3 separate regions of the Homo sapiens genome follow, and regions 1 and 2 are each linked to region 3. The links come from fine-mapping of genetic effects on gene expression. A gene starts in region 3. Each other region holds a variant in brackets. All regions are shown on one strand. Distances are from middle to middle.

Region 1 (8,178 bases), 240 kb before region 3:
CTAAACGTTTTGTGTCTCAGTTCTCACATTTAACATGGAGCTAATCATACTCGCCTCCCTGTTGAGTAGGCAAAAAAATAATTCATGATGCAGCCAGCACAGTGCCTGGCACCCAGTGGTACTCAAGTGATAGTCGTCATCATACGCTGCTATTAAGCTATATATTTTTTATTTTTTAGAGACAGGGTCTCACTCTGCTGCCCAGGCTGGAGTGCAGTGGTGCCATCATAGCTCACTGCAGCCTCAACCTCCTGGGCTCAAGCCATCTTTCCGCCTCAGCCTCCTGAGTAGCTGGGACTACAGGTGCCCACCATCATGCCTGGCTAATTTTTGTTTTTTGGCTTTTTTTTAAAGATGGGGTCTCACTATGTTGCCCAGGCTGGTCTTGAACTCCAGGGCTCAAGCGACACTCCCACCTCAGCCTCCCAAAGTGCTGGGATTACAGGCATGAGCCACCACCCTCAAACTACAGTGTGTCAAACTATAGAGGGTTCACTGAATTGTTTCCTCATCTCAGTCTCCTCGAGTCCCACAGGCAATAGAGGACAGGAAGTAGAAAAAGGTGGCAAATGTTTGACTCTTACAGATTCCTAGATAGAAACCTGAAATCTTACACTTATGAATTATTAGAATTGGTAGAGATTCTAGATTCTCAATCTACCCATCTCACAGAAGAGGAAACTGAGGCTTAGGGTAAAGGCAGGGGGCAAAGTGAAATGTTGCCCAAGCTCTTCTGGCTGGTCCAAGGAAGAAGTGGGATTAGAACCCAGGCAACTGGCTCCCAGTCCAGTCCCCCTCTGAGGCCCTGGAGGAGTGAAAGGAGCAGAAGGCCAGGAGTCTGGGATGCTGGGGTTCTGGTCCCGGGTCTGCCCCACTTGGCTGAAAGATGATGAGCCAGGGGCTGAGGCCCACTGGAGCTCCAAGTCTTCGTGATAAAACTTAAGGGGTTGTAGGGACTGGGGTGTCCCAAAGTCAAGTGGGCAGAATGCTAGTGCCCCACAGGATCCTATCAAGTGATTTGCCAAGGAAGGGACTCATGCTCAGCTGAACAAAGTTTGAAGGGGGACCACAGGGATTTCAGGGGAGGGCTCCAGAGTTAGAGGGTCAGGTTCAAATTCTGCCATTTACTAGCTGTGTGACCTGGGACAAAATATCTACCCTTTCTGTTCCTTAGCTGTGTCATCTATAAAATGAAGATAATGACCATCCATAGCTCACAAGATGACAAGGGATTGAAACAAGAGGCTGGACACGGTGGCTCACGCCTGTAACCCCAGCACTTTGGGAGGCTGAGGGGAGCAGATTACTGGAGGTCAGGAGTTTGAGACCAGCCTGGCTGATATGGTGAAACCCTGTATCTACTAAAAAAAAAAAAAAAAAAAAAAAAAAAAAAAACGAAAATTAGCCAGCTGTGGTAGCATGCACCTGTAGTCCCAACTACTTGGGAGGCTGAGGCAGGAGAATCACTTGAACCCGGGAAGCAGAGGTTGCAGTGAGCCAAGAACATGCCACTGCACTGCAGCCGGGTGACACAGTGAGATTCTATCTCAAAAGAAAAAAAAAAGATAGATTGAAACAAGATCATGCGTGGTACCTGGCACACTTCAGGCCTACAGTGGACACTGGTTATTACTTCAGTCCTATTGGTCACATTTCATATTATCTCTACAGGCGAGGGAACCAAGACTGCAGAGAGGTGAGACACCTGCCCAAAGTGACAGAGCTCATAGCACAGGGCTCTGGGAAGTGCTCCCCATCTCCCCCTCCCCTCGCCCTCTGCCTGGCATCTGCCCTTCCCAGCAGGGACTGCCTCCCTCACTGGCCTCATGTGACCTGTTAATCAAATCCTGCACCAGCCCCATGGAGTTTTCCCATCACTCATTGGGGAGGAAGCAGATGCCCAGGAAACTGCTTAAATAACCCGTGCAGCTCTGGGAAAGCCCCAGCCCTGGCTCCCAGCAGCAGCCCAGCTCCTCCTGCCCAGAAGCACCAACTGTTCTCTGAGACTGCAAAAAGGCAATGTTTAAAGCCACACGGGGACTGTGGACGGTGACCTTCAACTCAAGCCTCCAGTGAGCCGCTCCCTGGGGTTACTCACCATCCGCTTCCACCCCTGGGACTGTGGTTGTTTTAGTTAGAAGACCAGTCCCAGCCTGGATGACCTGGCACGCTGGGAGACCTCAGGCAAGTTGCTTAACCTCTCTGACTCGGAAATCTTTTTGGAAGAGAAAAATGAGCAGAATTTGGGAAGGAGTAAGGAAGCAGCAGGGTTCAGAGAATGACCTAGGAATCGAGAGCCTTTTAACAGCCTTGAAAGCTCTCCCTGGTAACTCTTCTGTCCCTTGCAGCCCAATCTCTACCCCAAACAAAAAGTTCTAATCCCGTCATCCCCTAGCTTGAAACAGTTGACTGGCTCGCAGGGCCCACAAGATAAAGTACAAGCCCCTAGTACAATGGACAGAGCTCCTGAGCAGCACCCTCCTGCACCCTCCCTGACATGGCCCTGCTATTCCCTCCCCTGAGCCTTGGCACATGCCTGGATGCCTCCTGCTTCCTGACCTAACTCTGCCTTTTCCACTGCTTGGCTTGGACACTCCCCTGGGAAGCCTCCTCGGAGTCCCTCCACCTGCATCAGGCACCGCCCACCCTTCAGCTGTTGCCCATCCACCTCCCTCACCAGATTAAGGGGCGCCACACCTTACTCATCTTGGAATCTCCAGTTCCTTGCCCAGTGCACAGCATTCAGTAGGTGCTTAGTAAATATGTGTTGGGAGGAGAGGAATGCAAGGACAGACAAATGAAAACAAATGAACAAAACCACAAGCTTTGGAATCCTCCTCTGCAACACGGGAATGCCGTGGGCAAACGAGGTGGACTGCCCCCCTTGGTGTGAATCCTCACTCCCTACACAGTCGTGCACCTGCTGGCAGGTGCACTGGGTCACCTCCGGGCCTCTTTCCGCTTCGATAAGGTGAGACGCTTAATAGCACCTGCACCTCACAGACTTATCGTGAGGACCAGGGGCCGATCCTCCCCAGGTGTTTAGTTCAGCACCTGGCACTAAAGGTAAGTTCCTTGCACCCATCTTCCCCTAGCTCCCAGGCTGCCTGCCCTGGCTCCTCCTCCTCCACCAGACTATAAATATAAGAGCTCCCAGAGCTCACCTCCCTGTGGAGGGATCTCTCCTCTGAATTGTCTCTCTGGGTGGTCACACCTGTCCCCTTTATATGTTAAGGATGCCCAAGTTTGCATCTCCAGCCCAGAGGCCCTCACTACCCCCTTGGACTTCTTTGGGGTTTTTTGGCTTTTTTTTTTTCGTTTTTGAGATGGAGTTTCACTCTCGTTGCCCACACTATACTGCAATGGCACAGTCTCAGCTCACTGCAACCTCCACCCTCCTGGGTTCGAGCAATTCTCCTGCCTCAGCCCCTGAGTAGCTGGGATTACAGGCGCCCGCCACCACACCTGGCTAATTTTTGTATTTTCAGTAGAGATGGGGTTTCACCTTGTTGCCCAGGCTGGTCTCAAACTCCCAACCTCAAGTGATCCTCCCGCCTTGGCCTCCCAAAGTGCTGGGATTACAGGCGTGAGCCACTGTGCCCGGCCTACCCCC[T/A]TGGACTTCTAACCAGCCTTTCAATGTGAACCTGCCCCAAACCTAACCCTTGGTTTCTCCAAAAGCCATGCTCCTCACTCCCTCTTAACCGTCTCCTTTCATGACACCACCACTCACTCAGAGACTCAAAAGAAGAATCTAGAAGTCATGCTCAGTTCTTCTCTTTCCCTCACCCCTGTGTACAATCCACCAGAAATTCCAGTTGATTCCAGCTGATATATAACCCAAACCCCAGACTTTTCTCCTATTCCACTGCCAAATGGGAACCTTTCCTTGCCTTTCCTCTGGTTCCCAGCTCCACCCCTCCACCCTGGCTCTCTACAGCCAGTTCTCCTCCCAGCAGACATGGGATCTTTTGCAAAGGTAAATCAGTCCCTCCCTGCCCTTGACCCTGCAAATGTTCGTAGTCTTGTTTGCTGGACCATGGGTTATTGGAGCGTAAAACTTCACCATATCTTTGTACCCATCCATCACCCCACAGCACTGAGTCAAGTGCTTCCACATCATAGGCACTTGGTAAATTATTTTTGAATAAATTATTGGAAAAAGGTGAATTTCTTAACAGAGTTTTTACTAGCTGGAATCTTGGAACTATATTTCATTAGTAAAGGTATTTATGGGAAGTGGAAAACAAACCTCCGATGGTTTCCTTTTGCACCTAGAGTAACAGTCCTAACTAACATGGCCTCTTCCACACCCTCCTAAACAGGCCAAGTTCATCTGGCCTCAGGGCTTTTGCATTTGCTGTAGCTCCTACCCGGAATACTTTTCCCTCAGATCCTTGCAGGGGGAGCTCCTGCTTGTCATTCAGGTCTGGCTTAAATGTCTCTCTTCAGAGAGGCCTCCCTGACCACCTGCAGCTAACGAATCCTGTACCCCCACCCCCACATACACCCTCTCTACCCCTCATCCCCAGTTATCACCATCCACCAGTCTGTTTCCTTCACAGGACTTAATGCATAACATGTGGTTACTTTATAAATTTGATGTGTTTGATTTTTGTCTCCTCCACCATCATATAAGACTCACGAGGCTGGGCACCGTGGCTCACACCTGTAATCCCAGCACTTTGGGAGGCTGAGGTGGGAGAATCACTTGAGGTCAGGAGTTCGAGACCAGCCTGGCCAACATAGTGAAACCCCATCTCTACTAAAAATACAAAACTTAGCCAGGTATAGTGGCAGGCGCCTGTAATCCCATCTACTCAGGAGGCTGAGGCTGGAGAATCGCTCGAACCCAGGATGCAGAGGATGCAGTGAGCCAAGATCATGCCATCACACTCCAGCCGGGGTGACAGAGCAACACTCCATCTCAAAAACAAAAACAAAAACAAAACCACCAGGGCAAGGTTAATGTCAGCTTACTCACTGTTGTAACTGAAAAGGATCAGAATATGCCATCCCAGGGCCAGAAGTGGTGGTTCACACCTATAGTCCCAGCACTTTGGGAGGCTGAGGCAGGAGAATCATTTGAGGTCAGGAGTTCAAGACCAGCCTGGCCAACATGGTGAAACCCTGTCTCTACTAAAAATACAAAAATTAGCTGAGTGTGGTGGTGCGCACCTGTAATCCCATCTACTCAGGAGGCTGAGGCTGGAGAATTGCTTGAACCCAGGAGGCAGAGGATGCAGTGAGCCAAGACCATTGCACTCCAGCCTGGGCAACAGAGCAAGATGCTGTCTCAAAAAAAAAAAAAAAAAAAAAAAAAGAATTATTTTGAGCTCAAGGTACTTGAGCAGCAGCCAATACAGGAAGAGCTCTTTGCCTCCCCTTTTCTGCCTAAAAGCAGGGCACACATTTCCCTTTGTAAAGGTGACATAAATTTCCATTTGCAAAGGTGTACCCCTCTACCTTACTTTATCTGCATAACAAACCTTACTAAACCACCCTTATCTACCATACATTTCCTAGTCACTTTCCTGAAATTTACTGACCCCTAAGAGTCCAATACTTTTCTTTTGTCTCCTCACTTCTCCACAATTTATCGCCCTTTGTTAAAATGTTACGTAAGCTCCTGGGTCTAACTGCCTCTTTGGATTTTCATTTCTTTTCTATGGAGACCCCTTACAGTAAAAAAATACATATATATAGTAACATTAAATAAAATCTATATGCCTTTTCTCCTATTAATCTGTCTTTTGTCAGTTTAATTCATAGGCTCTATCACAGAACCTAACAGGGTAGAAGAAAAGATATTCCTCCCCTACATGACAAAAGCCAACATTACTAAGCTTTGACCTGGGCCACGCAATATCATGAGCATCCTACCTGCCCTTTCTTGTCAAATCTCCATGCCTTATGACACAGCTACTAGTGTTATCCCTATTCCACAGATGAGAAAACAGATAAGAGAAGGGTCAAGTGAGTTGCCCAAGGCCCAACATAGAAAGAGCCCCAGCAGGGAGCAGGGTACCCCTCTACTCCCAGCGTCTACTCCCAGAACCCAACACAGCCTCTCCCTTTGTGGGCCCTAAATAGATACTTGCCAAATGAGTAAATGAATCACTGAATACATGAATGATATGCACCACAATATTGAGAGAGGCTGTCTTCAGGTGGCAAAATGATTTCCATTTTCTTCTCTCTGTATTTTCTCTGTGTTTTCTTCAGTGGTCATGCGATACATGTATAACTTAAAGTAAAACAAATGCCTGTTTTAAAAGAAATTCAAAGGTTGTGGGTAATGTCTAGGTTCAGGAATATTTTTCTTCAATTTCGGGAGACTGTTATTTTCCTACTTAATTTAACCATTGTTTTTCTAGGGAAATTGAATAAAAAGCCCACATTTCCAAAGCTCACTCCAAGTCTGCCCACTTCAAACAATGAAGAGAGGGGAGTAATGAGAGCTGGCTCCCGCCTTGTATGCTAATGGCCGGGATTCTGGGATGCATACCAATCAGCCAGCGACTAGAACCAGGACTTTTACAGAGAGGAGGGCACTCTGGGGCCAGGCTCTCAAGGAGAAAGAGGGGTTCCAAAACTCAGAAATGCCACCTCATCTTGGGCCCAACATGCCAACATGGGCTGGCACCATCACAAACCACCTGCACTGCCCTGGACTGGGGATGTATCTGCAAGAAGGTGGTGTTGGGGCCTGGTCTGAGACCATCCTCTCAACCAACAGGCCAGTGGGAAGATGAACCCCATGGCAGGGAGCTCAGTGCTGGCTCTAACCAAGAGGTGGGCAGACCCTGGGCCTGTGGCCAAGTGGTCAATTATCCTTCCCCATTTTCCATAGCATATGGGCACTGCTGCTAGGGGCTGTCAAAGGCACAGCCGGGCCAGGCCCTGGGAGGGTTGGCGCTGCTCAAGGAAAGACACAAGAGTGGAGAGGCAGGACTCCGGGGCGAGCAGAATGTGGTGCTTCTAACTCTTGGTTGCTCAACCCTGGGCAAGTTCAATGGAGGCAAAACAGAGATAATGATGCACCCCACCTCTTGGAGTAGCTGAGAACTGAGAAAGCTCCCACGAGCCATGCACTACCAAGGTGCCTGCCACTCTGCAATTATGAGCCATTAGTATTAGCTCTTTCCTGACACCAGGCCTAGGGAGCCCGTGTGGGTACCAGAATTCTATTCTCATCCTTGCCCCTGAGCCACAAGGTAACAAACCCAGCTATGACCAGACTGGGCCTTGCCAACACTGAATTAAAAAAACATACATTAACTCCGAACTAAGAAAGGCAAAGTGTGCTGAGATTCCAGGCATGTGATGAATCTCTCCCTCCCCTCCTCAAAGGGAAAAGGAAAACCGCATAAAGGAGGGGAGCACGGGACTGCAGAAAGATCTCAGGGCCTGCCGGGTTCAAATCCTGCCACTTACAAACACAGTGCCCTTGGATAAGTCTCTGAGACTCAATTTCCTCATCGATAAGATCGGAAAATAGGACGTACTTGCAGGATCGGCATGGAAATTAAATGAATTGATGCATGAAAAATATCTGGCACCTATAGGCATAAAGTCAAAATCAGTTGCCTTTAAGCAAACAAGTTCTCAATTATCTGCCTAAATGAAGGACAGAAGCAGCTTTTCTGGTATCAATTAGCAATGGGGGGAGAACAGGAGACCCCTCTTCCCAATTAAGTTTTGTGCTTGATATTAACATGGATTTTTTTTGAGAATCCACCAGCCACAGATGCAGGGGCTGGAAGACCAGCAAGCTTCAGGGACAGCAGGAAACTACCAAGAAACCTCAAAGATTTTTAGGGAAGCAGGGTGATCCACACAGCACAAGGCCCCTGACAGGTGAGGTTTGTCAGATTTCCTTTGCTGGCACCCAGATGATGCTGTGCCTCCTGACTTGAGGAAGGTTCAATGCTTCCCCTACTCTGTTTCAAGCCCTGCAGACTTTTGATTCACCTGACACCAGAGCCAGACTGAACTCTCAATAATTCATGCCTCTGAGCCTTTGCACATGCCATTCCTTCTGGGTGGAGAAAACACACATTAACTCCCCTGGGTAGAAGGAGCAGCATGTGCAAAGGTTCAGAGGCATGAATTGTTCCCCTCTCCCTACCCCATTCCCCTGCTACACTCCGCACATCCCTCCACTGTATGTAACATGTG
Region 2 (8,153 bases), 30 kb after region 3:
TCATCAATGAAGGTGCAGTGGAGGCCCAGCGGCTCCAGCAGGGACCGCACCTTCTCCTCCAGGCAGCAGCAGCCATTGATGATGGGCCCAAAGGGCTTGGGGATGCCCAGGTGCTTCCCCAGCACCAGCATGTTCACCTGCAGTCCAAAGGGGAAGCAGCACTTCATCACTGGGCTCCCACCCCACACCTCTACTCTACCTGCAGGACCTAGGTTTGTGTTTTAGACAGCCTTGTCAATAGCTACTCACCCTTTCCTGTGCAATGAGAAGGTAACTGGCTAAAGGGGCTGGGAAGAACCGGTTAGCCAGGTGCCTTTGGGAGCATCCGCAGAACTCACTCTGGCAACGTGCTCTGGAAACTGCCCTAATGTGAATTTGGAATTGTGGATTGTGGCAGCTGCCATGTTTGTGCTGCAGAATCCCAACCTTCTAGGCCATAACTGATTGGGCCAGGGAGAACAGCTGGTCCAAGATGGACCAATCAGAGTCCCTCTCCCAGGAATTTGAAACTGACAATGGGAGCGTCTAGTTGGTCTCTGCCCGTGTCAGTGTCTCTGTGCATGGCCATACTCATCTTTGTCCCCAGGAACAGAGAAGCAAAGGAAGCCAAGCTGGAAGAAGAGGGAGAAGAAGTAGGAGGTGGAGAGGGTGAGAGAAAGAGAGAGAATGAATGATGTAGACACAGAAACAGAGAGGGTTCCAGGCTCTGCTGCAGCTATCCTGCCCTCAGGTTTCTGGTGTCCTTATATTAAGACTCCCTCTGGCTGAAGCTGGCTTCAGTAGGACTCTGTCTCTTGCGAACACAAGAACCTGAATCATTGCACAAACTTCTTGGGGCACATATATAATTACAAGATAGCCTCGAACAGGAAGGAAGGGGAGTGAAAAGAGGCTTTGCAAGCGGAGGGCAAAATGTTGCCTGAAAAGAGGAAGGAAAAAGCGGGGCATGAAGCAATGGTGGTGTGGACAGGTTCCCCACAAGGCTCTGACAATGGGCAAATTGAGTTCTTTTAGGGGATGAGGTGGGGAGGAGTGGAGAGGGGAGCTGGGTGACCTATAGCAGTGCTACTCAAACTGTGTTCCTCTAAAAGGCAGCATCAGCACCACCTGGGTGTTTGTTAGCGCGGCAGCAGTGCCTCGGGCCGTGCTTTAGACCTGCTGAATCAGGACCGCTGGGGTGGGGCCCCACCTGTCCAGGTGTTTCAAAGGCAAGCTCAAGATTTAGAAGCAGGCCAAGCACGGTGGCTTCCGCCTGTAATCCCAGCACTTTGGGAGGCCGAGGCTGGTGGATCACCGGAGGTCAGGAGCTCAAGACCAGCCTGGCCAACATGGCAAAACTCCATCTCTACTAAAAATACAGAAATTAGCCGGGCGTGGTGGTGCACGCCTGCAATCCCACAATCCCAGCTACTCAGGAGGCTGAGGCAGGAGAATCGCTTGAACCCTGGAGGCTGAGGTTGCAGTGAGTGAGATTGTGCCACTGCCCTCCAGCCTGGGCAACAGAGTGAGACTCCGTCTCAAAAAAAAAAAAAGAAAAAAAGAAAAAAAGATTTACAAGCATCAGAGGCAAAGCCCTCAAGGCTCAGTCAAAAGCCACTTCTTCCATGAAGACTTCCTGGATCTCCAGTTCTACCTCTTAGGCTGGAAGTGCTTTGTCTCACCTCCAAACTGCCACATCGCCTTATCCTACAAAATAGATCACTGGGACATGTCCTCAGAGAAGGGAAGAGTTTCCCTCTCAACCGATTAGACTGAAAGTCCCTTGAGAGCAGGGGGCATTCTTAATCATCTCTGCATCTGCCACAGGACACCCTAAATACATGTGGGATGGATGAAGAGCCACAAGCTGGGAGGAAGAGAGCAGAATGAGCATCTGGGTTCCCAGCTGATGCCATGTGCTTTGCACACGTGACCTCATGCAATCATTCATTCACTCCACAAATGTCAAGTGGACCCCTTCCCTGATGCCCCTTGGGCCAGGGCTTGGCCAGCAAGCATTCCACAGGGACCATGGTGGTCAGCCAGCTAGAAGCCCTTCTGAGGAGCACCATAGGACCCCTGATTCTCCCTGCCACCCCCACTGGCCACCACAATCCTAAATATGACTGTGACCAGACATTTTTCCTCTCTCGAGCTTAGAGGTTTGCAGCCTGATTTGGCAAAGGAGTCATGGGTAGTGCCCTCACCAAGTCAGGGAAGAAGGCCGTTGCTTTTTTCCTCTCGGTCTTGAAGAGCTGTGGGATGTCAATGATGTCACACTCTGCCAGGCCCAGCTCCCGCTTCAGCACCTCACGGTTCCAGTCGATGCAGCTCTGGGGGCAGGGGAGGGCCAGAGTTGGGGACACCTTGCCAGTGTGTTTTGGGGGCACCAAGGCATCCTGTCGCTCCCCTCACTTCTTCTGGGTCAAAAGAGGGTGTTGGGACCCCTCTGTCTGGGCCTGTTCTAACCTGAGCTTTCATGAACAGTTAGCCTCAGATGTCTGTATCCCATCCTTGCCTCCAGCCCCGCCTACTCCCAAATCACAGCCCACAGGTACACCACAGCCCTTGTACCTGCACAAACTTATTGTAGTTGATGAGGTCTTTATTGGAGAGCACCTGGTTGATGGAGATGGTCTTGACCTGCTCATCATCTGTGAAGGAGAGAGATGAAAGAGAAGGACAGGGACAGCACCAACGTGAGGACCACCTGCTTAGGGAAGCAGACAGGCAGGAGCCAAGTTCACAGCTAATGGTCTTGCCGAGTCAGCAGCCTCTGACTTTCCCAGGCCTTGGGTGGGTTCCACCTGTCTGAGCTTGCCTTGGCCACTGTGCACATCTTGGGGTATAAGGAGTGGGAGGGTCTGGTTGCCACAGTGGAATGAACTGAGACCTTTATTTGAGTTCACTGGAAGTGGTAACGCCTGTCACTGGAAATGTACAACTGCCCGAGGGCACTGGATGAGGAATCCTCTTGCTTTGGCTTAGCGGGGAGCTGGGTCAGTTGCTGCCCACCCACCCACCATCAGTCAGGTTTTATAGGTTCACTGAGCAGCGAACCAGCCAGTCCTGGGATTCAGACACCATCCAGCCCCAATCCTGCCCTTCAGGGGGTGACTGCGTGAAATGGGGACCTCCCAGGGGTCCAGATTTTCTCAGCCTGATGGTGTGCCCATGCAGATGAGACTGGACAGGGAAGCGGAGGCTAGAGTCAATGGCACACAATCCTCATGGCTGCTACTTAGTAAGCGCTTACCATGAGCAGGCCCCGAGGGGAGTGCCCAGGTTCAGCATCTCATTTAACCCTCACGGTGACCCCCACAAGGTATGCATTATGATCCCCACTTTACAGATGAGAAAACTGAGGCTCAGAGAGGTCAGAAGACTTGCCAAAGGTCACACAGGTAGGATATGTGGGGGCTTGTGATTCAAACCCAAGCCCAGGGCTCGCACAGGGCCTCAAGCCTTGACCAAGGGAAAGGAGAGGGCTCCCCTGACCCATCTGCAGGTCTAACGCCCGCTTCACCCCAGTTTAAGGCAGGAAGCTGGGGTCCAGTCCCAGCTCCACTGCAATCTTGCTGAGGCCTCTGGGCCAGTGACATCCCCTCTCTGAGCCTCACATTCTTGGGAATAAAGGTGGGTGAGAGTCATCCCATTTGATCTCTCGTGAGATCAAATGAGATAACACGTGTGATGCACACAGCGTGAGGCCTGGCGCACTGAGGTGTCTAATCAGTGCTCTGGCCTCTGTGTCTGGCCTCT[G/A]TGTCTATGTAATTAATCGCCACAGTCACTGCCTGAGTGTCAGCCCTCGAGGGTGGGGTGGCTGCTTGTGGCCTGCCATCTGTGAATTCTCCCACGCTCCCTCCCAGCTGGGCAGGTTGGAATAACTCTGCTCAACCCATTCCTGGGTCTTGCTCACCATAAGTTCTCCCAGGAAAGATGAAGGTGGCATTTCTCCCTGCCTGGTACATAATTTGGATTTAAGGATTTCTAAGACTTACTCTAGGTTCACCGGAGTCTAGTTAGGGTGCGTTTGGGAGCAACAGGGTCAAGAAAGACTATTTCTCTTCCATTTTATTGCTAAGGCTCCAGGGTTGTGTTGGAAGAAGTTAACGCTAGCAAACAGAGAGCAAGGGGACTTTGGAAATTATTATACTTGGGGGCGTCTAAGTTCTACAGGAGCTTTTTTTCTCTCTGAGCTGTGTTTGGTCTAGGATGCTATCTGCCTTCCCTGAGGCCATGGGACCAAGAAAATCTATGATCCTGCGTGTCAAAGGGTCTTTGCCCTGGGACCTCTGGGGTCACTGAGAAAGGGAGGATCCTCTGGGATTCATGCAGTCTCAGTGGGGCTGGAAAGGGAGTGAATTTGAGAACGCTTCCAGCAAGCTTGCCAGATGACTCCAGTCCAGCCAGCTCTCTCTCTCTCAAAATTCTTCCAGTGCAAAACAAAAAACAAAACAAAAAAAAGTGGGCCCTGGCCAGACACAGTAGTTCACACCTGTAATCCCATACTTTGGGAGGCCAAGACAGACAGATCACTTGAGCTCAGGAGTTCAAGACCAGCCTGGGCAACACGGTGAGACTCCATCTCTACAAAAAATACAAAAAATTAGCCAGGCGTGGTGGTGCATGCCTGTGGTCCTAGCTACTCGCAAGGCTGCGGTGGGAGACTCGCTTAAGTCTGGGAGGTCGAGGCTGCAGTGAGCTGAGATCATGTCACTGCACTCCAGCCTGGCTGATAGACCCTGTCTCAAAAAAGAAGAAAAGAAAATGCCAGCTCCTTGTTTAAAGAGCAGACAAAAGAGTACCATTAAAAGTGCTACAGTATAAAGTTGTTTCTTTGTCCCCGAGTCTCTCTCCTGACTTGTCAGGGTGGTTTTTATTTGCTATTTCACATTGCGCTTTGCCGGGGACTTGCATGGGGCTGGACAGTCCCTTGCTGGTGTCAGGGCCCACCCTGTGGGCCTCACAGCGGAGGCCTAGCTCCCAGGGGGCTGTGCTTGGGCATGCCTCTGCTATGAGACCCACATGCTGTGCCCTGGAACGGGGCTGGCAGGTCCAGTTTGGCATCTCTCATTCCCACAGGACTGCCACCCCAAGCCAAGGCAAATGGGCGACCTCCAGAGTATTGTGGCCTCTGGGTATGTGCTGGGTACCTGAGCAAGCCTGGGTGAGACACTTACCCCTCCCAAGTTGCCCACCAAATGCCCTTGCAGGGCAGGGACGACTGATGCCATGAAGATGCTGAGTGGCACATGTGCCCAACCCCAGCCCTCCCCATGCCCAGGCTCCTGCTGGGGGCAGAGTGCTGCAGCATCTCAGGACAGTGACAGAGATGGGGGAGGCCTTGCACTGAGGCTCCAGGGAGCACAGAAGTAGGCAGCAGAGAATCTGTGCCAGGGAGGCAGGGAGGCTGGGAGACAGGACTGTGCCTGAGCAGAGGCTCCAAGCCCCGTAGATGCTCCACTGATCCATCAGACCTCACAAAACAGAATTAAGATTTCAGGGCAGCCAGGTGTGGTGGCTCACGCCTGTAATCCCAGCACTTTGAGAGGCCGAGGCGGGCTGATCACCTGAGGTCAGGAGTTCGAGACCAGCCTGACCAACATGGAGAAACCCCCGTCTCTACTAAAAACACAAAATTAGCCGGGCGTGGTGGCGCATGCCTGTAATCCCAGCTACTCAGGAGGCTGAGGCAGGAGAATCGCTTGAACTTGGGAGGCGGAGGTTGCGGTGAGTGGAGATCACGCCATTGCACTCCAGCCTGGGCAACAAGAGTGAAACTCCGTCTCAAAAAGGAAAAAAAAAAAAGGGAGATTTCAGGATAGTGACTGCAGAACATTAAAGCTCCACGCCGTGACTGCACTGGTCACCTGCCTGGGAAGCCACTATGTCCCCGCTCAGTCCATGTCCACCTTCTATCACCCCGCTTCCCACCTCAGCTCGGCCCCAGCTGTGGGCAGTGGTGTCTGGTGAAGCAAGGTGTGCAGGGGCAGGAGTGAGAAGCCCTGAATTTGGGGACACACCCCTGCTTTAAAACTTGCCCTCCCCCTCTCAAGCCATGATGTGTCTTAATTTGGGTAAGGGGCAGGCAAGCCGCAAGGAGGGACACGGCACTGTTACCCACCAACAACCCCCTGGAACAGGAGGGCCCTCCCGTGGCCACACTTCTGCTTTTCCTGGAAGAGCTTGAAGCAGGCCCCAGGGCTGGCCAGGAGCATCCGGAAGCCCTGCGTGCAGAGAACAGATTCAGCTGAGCCTCCTGCCTTGGCATGGCGCCCTGGAGCTCAGTTCTTGCCCCAGATGCCAGGGAAAGACACGTCATGCACGAAGTTCTTACCTTCCCATCGGGGGCAGGGACAAAGCTCAGAAACTCATCCACATGGCCCACGGCCAACCAGTCCACAAAGAGCTCCACGGGGGGCTGCACCTTCTGGGCATGGAGGAAGTCCCGCACCACCTGGGTGACCCTGCGGCCACTTGACCTGGGACCCACGAGGTTAAAAAAAAAGTTGCTTAACTAAAAAGACTCCATGCAGAAATAAAATGACAAGAGTTTAGCATTCCTGCAATATCTGATTTTTAAAAAACAAAAAAACATGCATTACTTTTATAAACAGGAAAGTAATAAATATGTATATTTCATTTTATTTATTTATTTATTTTTGAGATGGAATCTCACTCTGTCACTCAGGCTGGAGTGCAGTGGCGTGATCTCGCCTCATTGCAACTTCCGCCTCCCAGGTTCAAGGGATTCTCCTGCCTCAGCCTCCCAAGCAACTGGGATTACAGGCGTGCACCACCAGGCCAGGCTAATTTTTCTGTATTTTTACTAGAGATGGGGTTTCACCATGTTGGCCAGGCTGGTCTCGAACTCCTGACCTCAAGTGATCTGCCCGCCTCAGCCTCACAAAGTGCTGGGATTACAGGGATGAGCCACTGCACCCAGCCAGATACGTATATTTTAAAATTCCACTTAGGGTGAGTTCTGCATGAGGCAGACTCAGGACAGGTCAGTCACACCAGGGCAATGACCTACCAGGTCCCACCATCCAGGAAAATCTTCAGAACCACCCTCACACCAGGTTCTTATTCTCCAAGAGACAGATTTCACCCCCATGTTCAATTTTTACGAAAATGTATCTAAGGGCATGGTCCAGCTTCCTCTTTCAATGGGATTATGTATTTGAGGGCAGTAGTCCCTTCCAAAGCTTGACTCTGGATTCATTCATTATTTGATCCCAAGTCTGTTCTAACAGCTTTGTTGCATTTGGTTAGCTCAATGTCTTGGTCTAGTCCACAGCAAGTAACCAATATGATAGGATTCCTTTTCCATCAGCACCCCTGTGTCACTACTGAACAACACATCATTTGTTACTCTCTCTGTATGTTATTGTCATTTCACTTAGCATGTCTTGTACCTCACTTCTCTTGCTCTCAGGAAAAGATCTTATATTAGTCATTTACATGGTAGTATGAACAAGCTTTGACCTAAATGCATTTTCTCCCAGGACTGTTGGGAATGGAAACTTTTTCTTTGTTACTTTTTTTTTTTTTTTTTTTTTTTGAGACGGAGTCTCGCTCTGTCGCCCAGGCTGGAGTGCAGTGGCATGATCTCAGCTCACTGCAAGCTCCACCTCCTGGGTTCATGCCATTCTCCTGCCTCAGCCTCCTGAGTAGCTGGGACTACAGGCGCCTGCCACCACGCCTGGCTAATTTTTTTTTTTTTTTTAGTAGAGACGGAGTTTCACCATGTTAGCCAGGATGGTCTCGATCTCCTGATCTCATGATCCGCCTGCCTTGGCCTCCCAAAGTGCTGGGATTACGGCATGAACCACCATGCCCACTCTTCTTCTGTTACTATTAATTGACTGTTACTAGTATCATCTATTTATTTTCAGAATCAGAAAACTTGAGTCTAGTTATAACTTTGCTTTCTATGTGACTCACTTACCCTCTCTGGGCCCACTTGTAAAATGAAAGTGTTGGACTGAATGATCTCTTAGGTCTCTGCTCTCTCTGGTTTCAGAGTCCCCGAGGTAAGTGTGGACTGTGTCTGGTGAACACCCACCAACCCCAGCACATCCGGGAGTATAATTTCATCATTCCTTGCTTCTGGCTCTCTTCAAGGAGTGCAATGGCCCCTGCTCCACCATCATCACCACCCCCAACCC
Region 3 (8,178 bases):
TGTTGGGATTACAGGCGTGAGCCACCATGCCCAGCCCCATTTTGTTTCTAAATAAGATAGCTACAAAGATTAAAAAAAAAAAAAAAAAAGCTACATATCTCCCTCACAATTTGCCGACAAGGAAATTCCTTGTGAGCCCTAAGATCTTTCCCGTGAACCAGTTCTGTTGAATTTCACCCTGACAATGTAAGTTAATAGCTTATCTTCACAGGCATGGAACAAAGGACAGAAATCAAAGTTATCCCTCTGCTTACCTGCAACAAATGCATATCTGATTTCTTCCCTTGCTCTATGTTTATCATTTGTGACAATATAGATTCCCTGAGCTCAAGGCATAAGTGACTATTCCTCTCCCCACCTCACACGGAAAATGTATTCAGTGAAAGCTGATCAAAGACTCAATGCAACCACTTACCTCTTATCTACCCATCTTTTTTTTCTTTCTTCCTCTTTGCCCCAATACCCACTTTTTTTTTTTTTTTTTTGAGGCGGAGTTTCACTCTTATTGCCCAGGTTGGAGTGCAATGGTGCAATCTCAGCTCACTGCAACCTCCGCCTCCTGGGTTCAAGTGATTCTCTTGCCTCAGCTTCCTGAGTAGCTGGGATTACAAGCGTCTGCCACCACGCCCGGCTAATTTTTGTATTTTTAGTAGAGATGGGGTTTCACCATGTTGTCCAGGCTGGTTTCGAACTCCTGACCTCAGGTGATCCACCCTCCTTGGTCTCCTAAAGTGCTGGGATTACAGGCGTGAGCCACCACATCCGGCCCAATTCCCACTCTTTTCCCTTTAAATATTGAAGTCCCAGACCCATTTAGGAAAAAGCACGGACTACAGATTTTTCCTGTTTCTGTATTCTTTTCCTGGGCACGTCCTTAACCTTGGAAATAAACCTCTGAAAATGATTGACACTCACTTTAGTCATTTTCTTTGATTTGCATTGGAAAGGGGACCCCTCTGCCAGACACTTTGTGTGCATTATATAATTCAATCTTCGCCGTAACCCAGGAAGGGGTGTTAATTTTCCCATTTTACAGATGGGTAAACCGAGGCTCAGAGAGACAAACAGACTTGTCCAGGCTCCCCACTGTCATGCCAACTGGTCTATTCAGAAGGAAACCCGGCTGGGCGCGGTGGCTCAAGCCTGTAATCCCAGCACTTTGGGAGGCCGAGGCGGGTGGATCACGAGGTCAGGAGATCGAGACCATCCTGGCTAACACGGTGAAACACCGTCTCTACTGAAAATACAAAAAAATTAGCCAGGCATGGTGGCAGGCGCCTGTAGTCCCAGCTACTGGGGAGGCTGAGGCAGGAGAATTGCGTGAACCCGGGAGGTGGAGCTTGCGGTGAGCCAAGATCTTGCCACTGCACTCCAGCCTGGGCTGGACAGAGCGAGACTCCGTTTTTAAAAAAAAAAAAAAGAAGAAGGAGACTTTGGGAGGAAGAAGAGAGACCATAGATGGCAGCTTCTGAATGCACACTGCCCTTTGCAGTTGGCACCTCCTGGACCCCCACCCCTTCTAGGCCTTTACCAAATCCTTTGGAAGTTGAATGAGCTCTGCCCACAGGGAGCAGTGCCCAGGGGAGTCCACTCCCCAGCATTTGGAGGCAGGGTGGGCTGCGAAGCAGGGTGGGTTTAGGGTCAGACAGTCCTGGCTTTGCCACCTTTAACTTTTTTTTTTTTGAGACAGAGTCTCACTCTGTTGCCCTTGCTGGAGTGCAGTGGTGCAATCTTGCCTCACTGCAACCTCCACCTCCCAGGTTCAAGCAACTCTTGTGCCTCAGCCTCCTGAGTAGTTGAGATTACAGGCATGTGCCACTACTCCCATCTAATTTTTTTTTTTTTTTTTGAGACGGAGACTCACTGTGTTGCCCAGGCTGGAGTTCAGTGGCACAATCTCGGTTCACTGCAGCGTCCGCCTCCTGGGTTCAAGCGATTCTCCTGCCTCAGCCTCCCAAGTAGCTGGGACTATAGCTGCGTGCTACCACGCCCGGCTAATTTTTGTATTTTTAGTAGAGACGGCGTTTCACCATGTTAGCCAGGATGGTCTCGATCTCCTGACCTTGTGATCCGCCTGCCTCGGCCTCCCAAAGTGCTGGGATTACAGATGTGAGCCATTGCGCCCCGTCTAATTTTTTTGTATTTTTAGTAGAGACGGGGTTTCCCCATGTTGGCCAGGCTGGTCTCGAAATTCTGACCACAAGTGATTTGCCCATCTTGGCCTCTCAAAGTGCTGGGATTACAGGCATAAGCCACCGTGCCCAGCTTGCCACCTTTAATTTATGTGACCCTCGGTTAGGTGTTTTTGCCTCTTTTTTTTTGAGACAGAGTCTTACTCTGTCACCCAGGCTGGAGTGCACTAGCCCAATCTTGGCTCACTGCAACCTCTGCCTCCCGGGTTCCTGACTTTGGGGACAGAGAGAATGGCTTGAGCAAAGTTATGGAGGCATGAATATGAGGGGCGGAGGTGAGGAGGGAGTGGCCCTCCCACCTGTGTGGTTCAGGAAGAGGCCGATGGCTGCTCAGGAGATGGGAGGGAGGCGCTGTCTGGGGCTATGTTAAGAACAGATAAGAAGTGACAGGAAGGTCTGGAACGGAGACCCATGGGGAGAATGGAGGGTCCTAGAGTCAGGCTGCCTGGGTTGAGTCCTGGCTCCCCTACTTATTAGCTGTGTGGCTTGAGGTGGGTTACTTAACTTCTTGGAGCCTCTGTTTCCTCTTTTGTAAAATGGGAATAACAACATTACCTGCCTCCCAAGGCCATTGAATGAGTTGAATGTAGGAAGTGTGATGTAAATATTAGCCATTGTTACGTGAGATGTTCAGGGGATAGAGTGACAGGCTCAACGTGTGGCTGAAGGAGGAGAAAAGAAGGATTTAGAGGCCCCTGTGAACTCCGGAGTCCCCATCCTTTCTGGGAGAAATGGGCAGTGCCTTCCTCTCTGCCCAACACTGACCAGCTGTCCACCCACCTCTCTAGGGCCAGAGGAAGCACTTGTGATCTTGATTACTACTCATGGACGCTGGGTAGAGGGCTAGCCTGGGCATGCTGGGAGAGGCCCTGGGCTAGCTTCAGCTCCTGTCATTTCCTTCACACCCATTCTCAGAGGAGTTGGGGGCGCCTCAGATGATGTCAGGTGATTTTCTTTTTCCTTTTCTCCCCAACTTCTTGGTCTCCTGCCTCCACCATGTGGCCCTGGGAGACCATCCCGACATTTCCTGCTGTTCTCTGGCTGCTGGGGCTCAGGCAGTAGCAAAGAAATGTCCCCGGCACTCCTGTGGGCACCATTCTAGGGCCACCGATGCCCAGACTGGGATGGGGAAGCCAGGGGCAACCACTCCTATTCCTGACAACAGCAATTGTTGCAGGATAATTTAGGAATCAGAGAGACCGAGGGGTTGAGGAGGATTTATTATTTAGATTCACTGGCTCAGTCAGGCTAACATTTCAAAAGACTGAGCCCTGAACAAAGAGTTAAGTTATCTTTTAAGCATTTCATGGGGCGGGGGTAGATCTGTGCAGGGGGAAGCATATTATAGAGGCAAGAAACAAAGACAGTTATTTAATTGAGACATGCATTATATTATTTTTTACTTTTTAAGGAAAAAAATTTTTACAGCTTGAGTTTATCTGTCTAGTGACCTTGCAGCTGCACAGCTGGAGAAACAGGGTCTTTACAATGCCTGGAAAAAGAGGAGCAATAAGGCTCACTAGCCACAAAAAAACAGGCAGTTAATTTTTAAGGGACTCCAGCTCTTTTTTTTTTTTTTTTCCAGGGAAAATTGTTTTTTTTTTTTTTAACATAGAACTGAGTTTTTGCTTACACGTTTTAAAATTTCTTTTAATTCCTGTTCTACAATAACAACAATGACCCTGCACACTCCCCGAGAGCATTCCTCAACTCTCTTGTTTAACCCAGACCCTGCCACAGAGCATGGCACTCAGCATTTGTTAAATGAGTAAATAAAAACTACCAAGGATGGGCCCACCACTGTGCTAAGTACTCAGCCAACATCTGCACATTTTTTCACATTGAATTCCTATAACCAGCCCATGATGTGAGTATTATCCCCATTTCACAGATGAGGCAACTGAGGCTCAGTTGCCCAAGGCCTCCTTGCTAGCCAGCAGCAGGTCCAGGCTTCCTACCTCAGTCTCTGCCGCCACAGAGCCCCGTTTCGCCATCCCCACCCACGCTATTATGCACCCACTGAGGGAGGCTTAGCTAAGAGATGTGGGGTAACAAACTGTGCTGTGAACCAGGAGGCCCAGGGGCTAACCTTACTTCCAGGGCACACGTGCTGTGTGACCTTGAGCAAGTCACAGACTCTCTGTAAGCTTCTGTTGCCTCGATGAAGACAGGGAGATGGATGGCCTGGTTTGCCCCATAATAATTTATCTGTCGTGTGTTCCTGGGGAATTTGCACTTGTACATGGCAAAGAACCCACAGCCATGAGACTGGCACTTCCCAGGGCTGCTGGGGTCTTCTCTCTCCAGCTACTCCCCTGGCAGTGGCTGCAGAGGCTGGAGCCTAGAGCCTGGGCCAAACACATGCTCCTGTGTCAGTAGAACTGGGTCATCCAGCATCTCCTGACCTGCCTCCAAAACCCCAGAAGGCCCCCCTCTTACCTGCAGATGTCAAGCTGAGTCAAGGTGCCCAGCACACACACGGCATGGGTGGGCTGCTCTGGGGTCACACGGATCAATGTCCCCTGGGCCATCGTCGGGCTAGCTCGTCCCTCTGGCTGTAGGAAGCCCCTGGGCTGGTTCCTTTATATCGCCCAGCAGAGGCCATGAGTCAGCACCTGCGGTCTGTGGCCCAGAGGCTCAACCCCTCCCCACTCAGGTCAGGGGTGTGGGCTCTCAAAATCTCCTCTGCCCTGGGGCTGCCCCTCGGACCTCTAGATGGGTGTCAATGCTGGTACCAGTGGCAGGGTGGCTCTGTCAGTTTCTTGGGAAGGATGGATGGCTCAGAAAGCCTGGGGTGGAGAGTGGGGCTGAGGGGTTGGGTCCTGGTCCTCATGCCCACAGTCCCATCCCTGCCTAGAGGCCCTGAACACCTTGATCTATCCAATCTCACCTATGTCAAACAGGCATATCAGAGAGGAGAAGGTGGGAAAAGCGGGGAGATTTTAGGTAAGCAGTCACAGGCCAGGCTACACGTTCAAAGACCAACCAGGCTTGGGACAAGTCTCTCCACCTGGGCCACCCACATGACAGCTCACATTCTCTATGCCAGGCACGTTTTCCTGCACTTCACATAGAATAGCTCATTACGACAAACCCGTGAACTAGATCATACCATTATCCCCTTATTTCACCCTCACAGCAGCCCTCTGAGGTTGGTGCCATTATTATACCCATTTTACAGAGGAGAAAACAGAGGTGCAGTTCTTCCACAGCTCGAGAGTGGTAGGGCCAGAATTGGAACCAAAGGTGTCCAGTTCCAGAGTGTGAGATTCATTAGCTGCCTGTCTATATGACACGTGCTTTCCAGACTGTATCACAGCTACATCTCGCTACAATACAAGGTGTATATGGGCTTATTATTACAACCCATTTTACAGAAGGAAAATTGAGGCTCAGAGAGTAAAAGTGACTAGCTCTTGCCCAAGGTGCCAGAGCTAGAATGCGGCAGAGCTGGGAAGAGAAGATGAGCTTCCTGGCATGGAAGTTGATGTTCTCTGCATGCTCCAGGATACCTGCCTCTTGCCAGGGCCTCTGGGTGTCAGACCAGACAGTGCAGGTGTGGGCCACGCCTGCCAGGGGGATGCCCATGTGGCCTCAGAGCTGTGGTTGCACCTGGGCCATTGGTGCCAGGCTCTGCCTTTAATGAGGCAACTGGGGGGTGGTGGATGGGTCCCAACAAGGAGCACTCAAAGGGTGCATGCATGGGAGTCTGGCGTGAACATAGAGCGTTTCGTGGGTTGGATATCTTGCGTTTGTTTTTTGTTTGCTTGCTTTGGCTTTGAAGCAAAGAATTTGCCTCATTAATTCAGAGTCAGGCTGTGGGATCAAACAGGCTTTAGTTCAAATCCTGCCTCATCTCAACATCCCTATGGAGTGCGTCCTATCAGGATGCCCATGTGTAGATGAGACCACAAAGACTTAGAGAGATTGAGTGAGACCCCCAAGGTCTCATAAGCCCTACAGTGGGGATCTGGATTCAGACCACCTTCTCTGGGCTCAAAATTTATCTTCTGTACCAGCAGATGATGATGTGGCCAGGTCCGACGTTCTGACGCATCTACATGACTGCCTGCACACAGTGTTAATAAACCCAATTTCTCTGGCTGACCGCATGATTAGAACTAGTTTGAGCTTCTACTGGGAAGTGGCAGGAGGGAGCTGTCCATTGTTAGAGTTGGGAGGGCCCTTAGAGAACACCCAATCCAGTCCTCGTTTTGCAGAAGGGGAGACTGAAGCACAGAAAGGGAGTGGGACCTGCCCACGGTCACACAGCAAATCAGAGGGAGGGCTGGCCTCTACCCCAAGTCTTAGGTCTCTTGAGGTTGTTTTCTTCTGTTCCTTCTTTTCTTTCTTATTTTCTTCAGCAGTTTGGGGTTTAAATTTGCTGTGAACGAGCCACAAAGAGGACGAGCCCCAAAGCAGTTTTGTTAATTCAACAAATACTGACTGAGTGCCTATTGATGGCCAGGCACTGTTCCAGGCACCGTGGATACGCTGTGAACAAAGTGGACAAAAATCCTGCCTTCATAGAGCCTTTTTGTTTGTTTGTTTTTGTTGGGAGAGAGACAGCCAGTAAGCAATAAATGCAGTAAGTGGATTCTATCGTATGTTAGTGGGGTAGAAAAAGGAAAAAGGACAGGGTAAAGGCTACCAGGAACACAGGGAGAAGGTTCCAAGTCAAGAGAACAGCCAGTGCAATCGGTACAAAGGCCCTGAGGCAGGGACATGCCTGGCGGGTTCAAGAAAGAGCAAAGAGGCCAGTGTGGCTGAAATGCAGTGAGGGAGGGGGAGAGCAGCCCAGGGCGGGGTGCGATCATATAGGGCCTTTCGGGCATCCTAAGAGCTTTGGCCTCTGCTCCAAGTAACGTGGGGAGCCTGGAGTCATTTTGAGCAGAGAAGGACCGCGAACCAACTTGCTTGAACGTGATCACTCTGGCTGTGATGTGAGAACAGACTGTAGGGGACCCGGGAGGAGGCCAGAAGACCTGTGAGGTGGCCGCTGCACACAGGCTGGTGACAGACGGTGGGGCTCAGGCTAGCGTGGTGGCAGTGGAGGAGGGGAGGATGGGTCAGGTTCTGGACATTTTGTGATGCAATACAGCCAATAGGAGTTGCAGAGGGACTGGATGAGGGGTGTTAAGAAAGACAGAGGGATGGAGGAGGACACCGCAGTTTGGAGCCTGAGGCCCTGGAGGGATGGGGCTGCCCGCAGCTGGGCAGGGAAGGCTGAGGGAAGGGCGGGGGGTGGGCATGGTGGAGATCAGGAGTTTGGTCCTGGCTTTGCCAAGTGTCATTTGGTGTGATGATGCCCTGTAGGACGTTTGAACACATGATTCCGGAGCTTAAGAGACAGGACCAGGCTGAAAAGGATAAAACAGTGAGATGTCAACATCTCCAGCTCCCCTAGGGAATGAGTGAGGATAGGGAAGAGAGAAGGCCGAGGGATGAGCCCTGGGGTCCTCCACCAGAGACCCAGGGGAGTGATGAGGGAGAGGAGATGCAAAAGAGAATGCATGCTATTTGCAATTACACAGGGAGCAATGCAAAACTAGGTTTGTAACACACACACACACACACACACACTCACTCACACTGAGGGAAAACGGCTGCACTTTGGAAGCAAAGCCTCTTTGTAGAAACACACTTGGTCACTCACAGTGGAACAAGGGCCACGGGCTCTGTGATGGGCAGGGCTGAGGGCAGGAGCCAAGGGCAGTGGAATGAGAGGCCAACAGACTTGGGGCTGGCGCGTGCCCCACCTGTGCCTGCAGCTCCAGCTGCATCCTGACATGGCTGCTCCCCTACTGTTGGACATGGGGGCTGTCTGCAAGTTTTCAGTGTCATAAACCATGCAGCGATGCATCACTTGTGCCCGTGTCTGTGGTTATTTGCAGGTATGTTGTAGATTCATCTTTGCCCCTCTTTAGTTTTTTGGCAGAGCGCTTCATTCTTTTCCTGAGATTTGCCACACCTTGTGTTTAAATGC

Evidence for each region.
Region 1: its variant is fine-mapped to the expression of PADI4 in liver (GTEx, PIP 0.99).
Region 2: its variant is fine-mapped to the expression of PADI4 in whole blood (TOPMed, PIP above 0.99).

The regions. Positions count from the first base shown.
Region 1 is chr1:17,545,789-17,553,966 of GRCh38, reverse strand. All of the region lies in intron 1 of ARHGEF10L (Rho guanine nucleotide exchange factor 10 like), which reads right to left. Among named protein-coding and RNA genes, the nearest start is that of ARHGEF10L, 10 kb to the right of the region's middle. RefSeq lists an enhancer at 6,270-6,914. The variant T/A (reference allele first, on the strand shown) is at 3,614.
Region 2 is chr1:17,274,830-17,282,982 of GRCh38, reverse strand. It overlaps PADI3 (peptidyl arginine deiminase 3), which reads right to left. Exons shown (of 16, transcript NM_016233.2): 12 at 6,320-6,464; 13 at 6,107-6,209; 14 at 2,554-2,633; 15 at 2,187-2,312; 16 at 1-137. It overlaps MIR3972 (microRNA 3972), which reads right to left and starts at 5,094; the gene lies at 5,008-5,094. The variant G/A (reference allele first, on the strand shown) is at 3,742.
Region 3 is chr1:17,304,768-17,312,945 of GRCh38, reverse strand. PADI4 (peptidyl arginine deiminase 4) reads right to left here and starts at 4,749. Exons shown (of 16, transcript NM_012387.3): 1 at 4,632-4,749. The coding sequence starts at 4,723. RefSeq lists an enhancer at 7,567-8,178.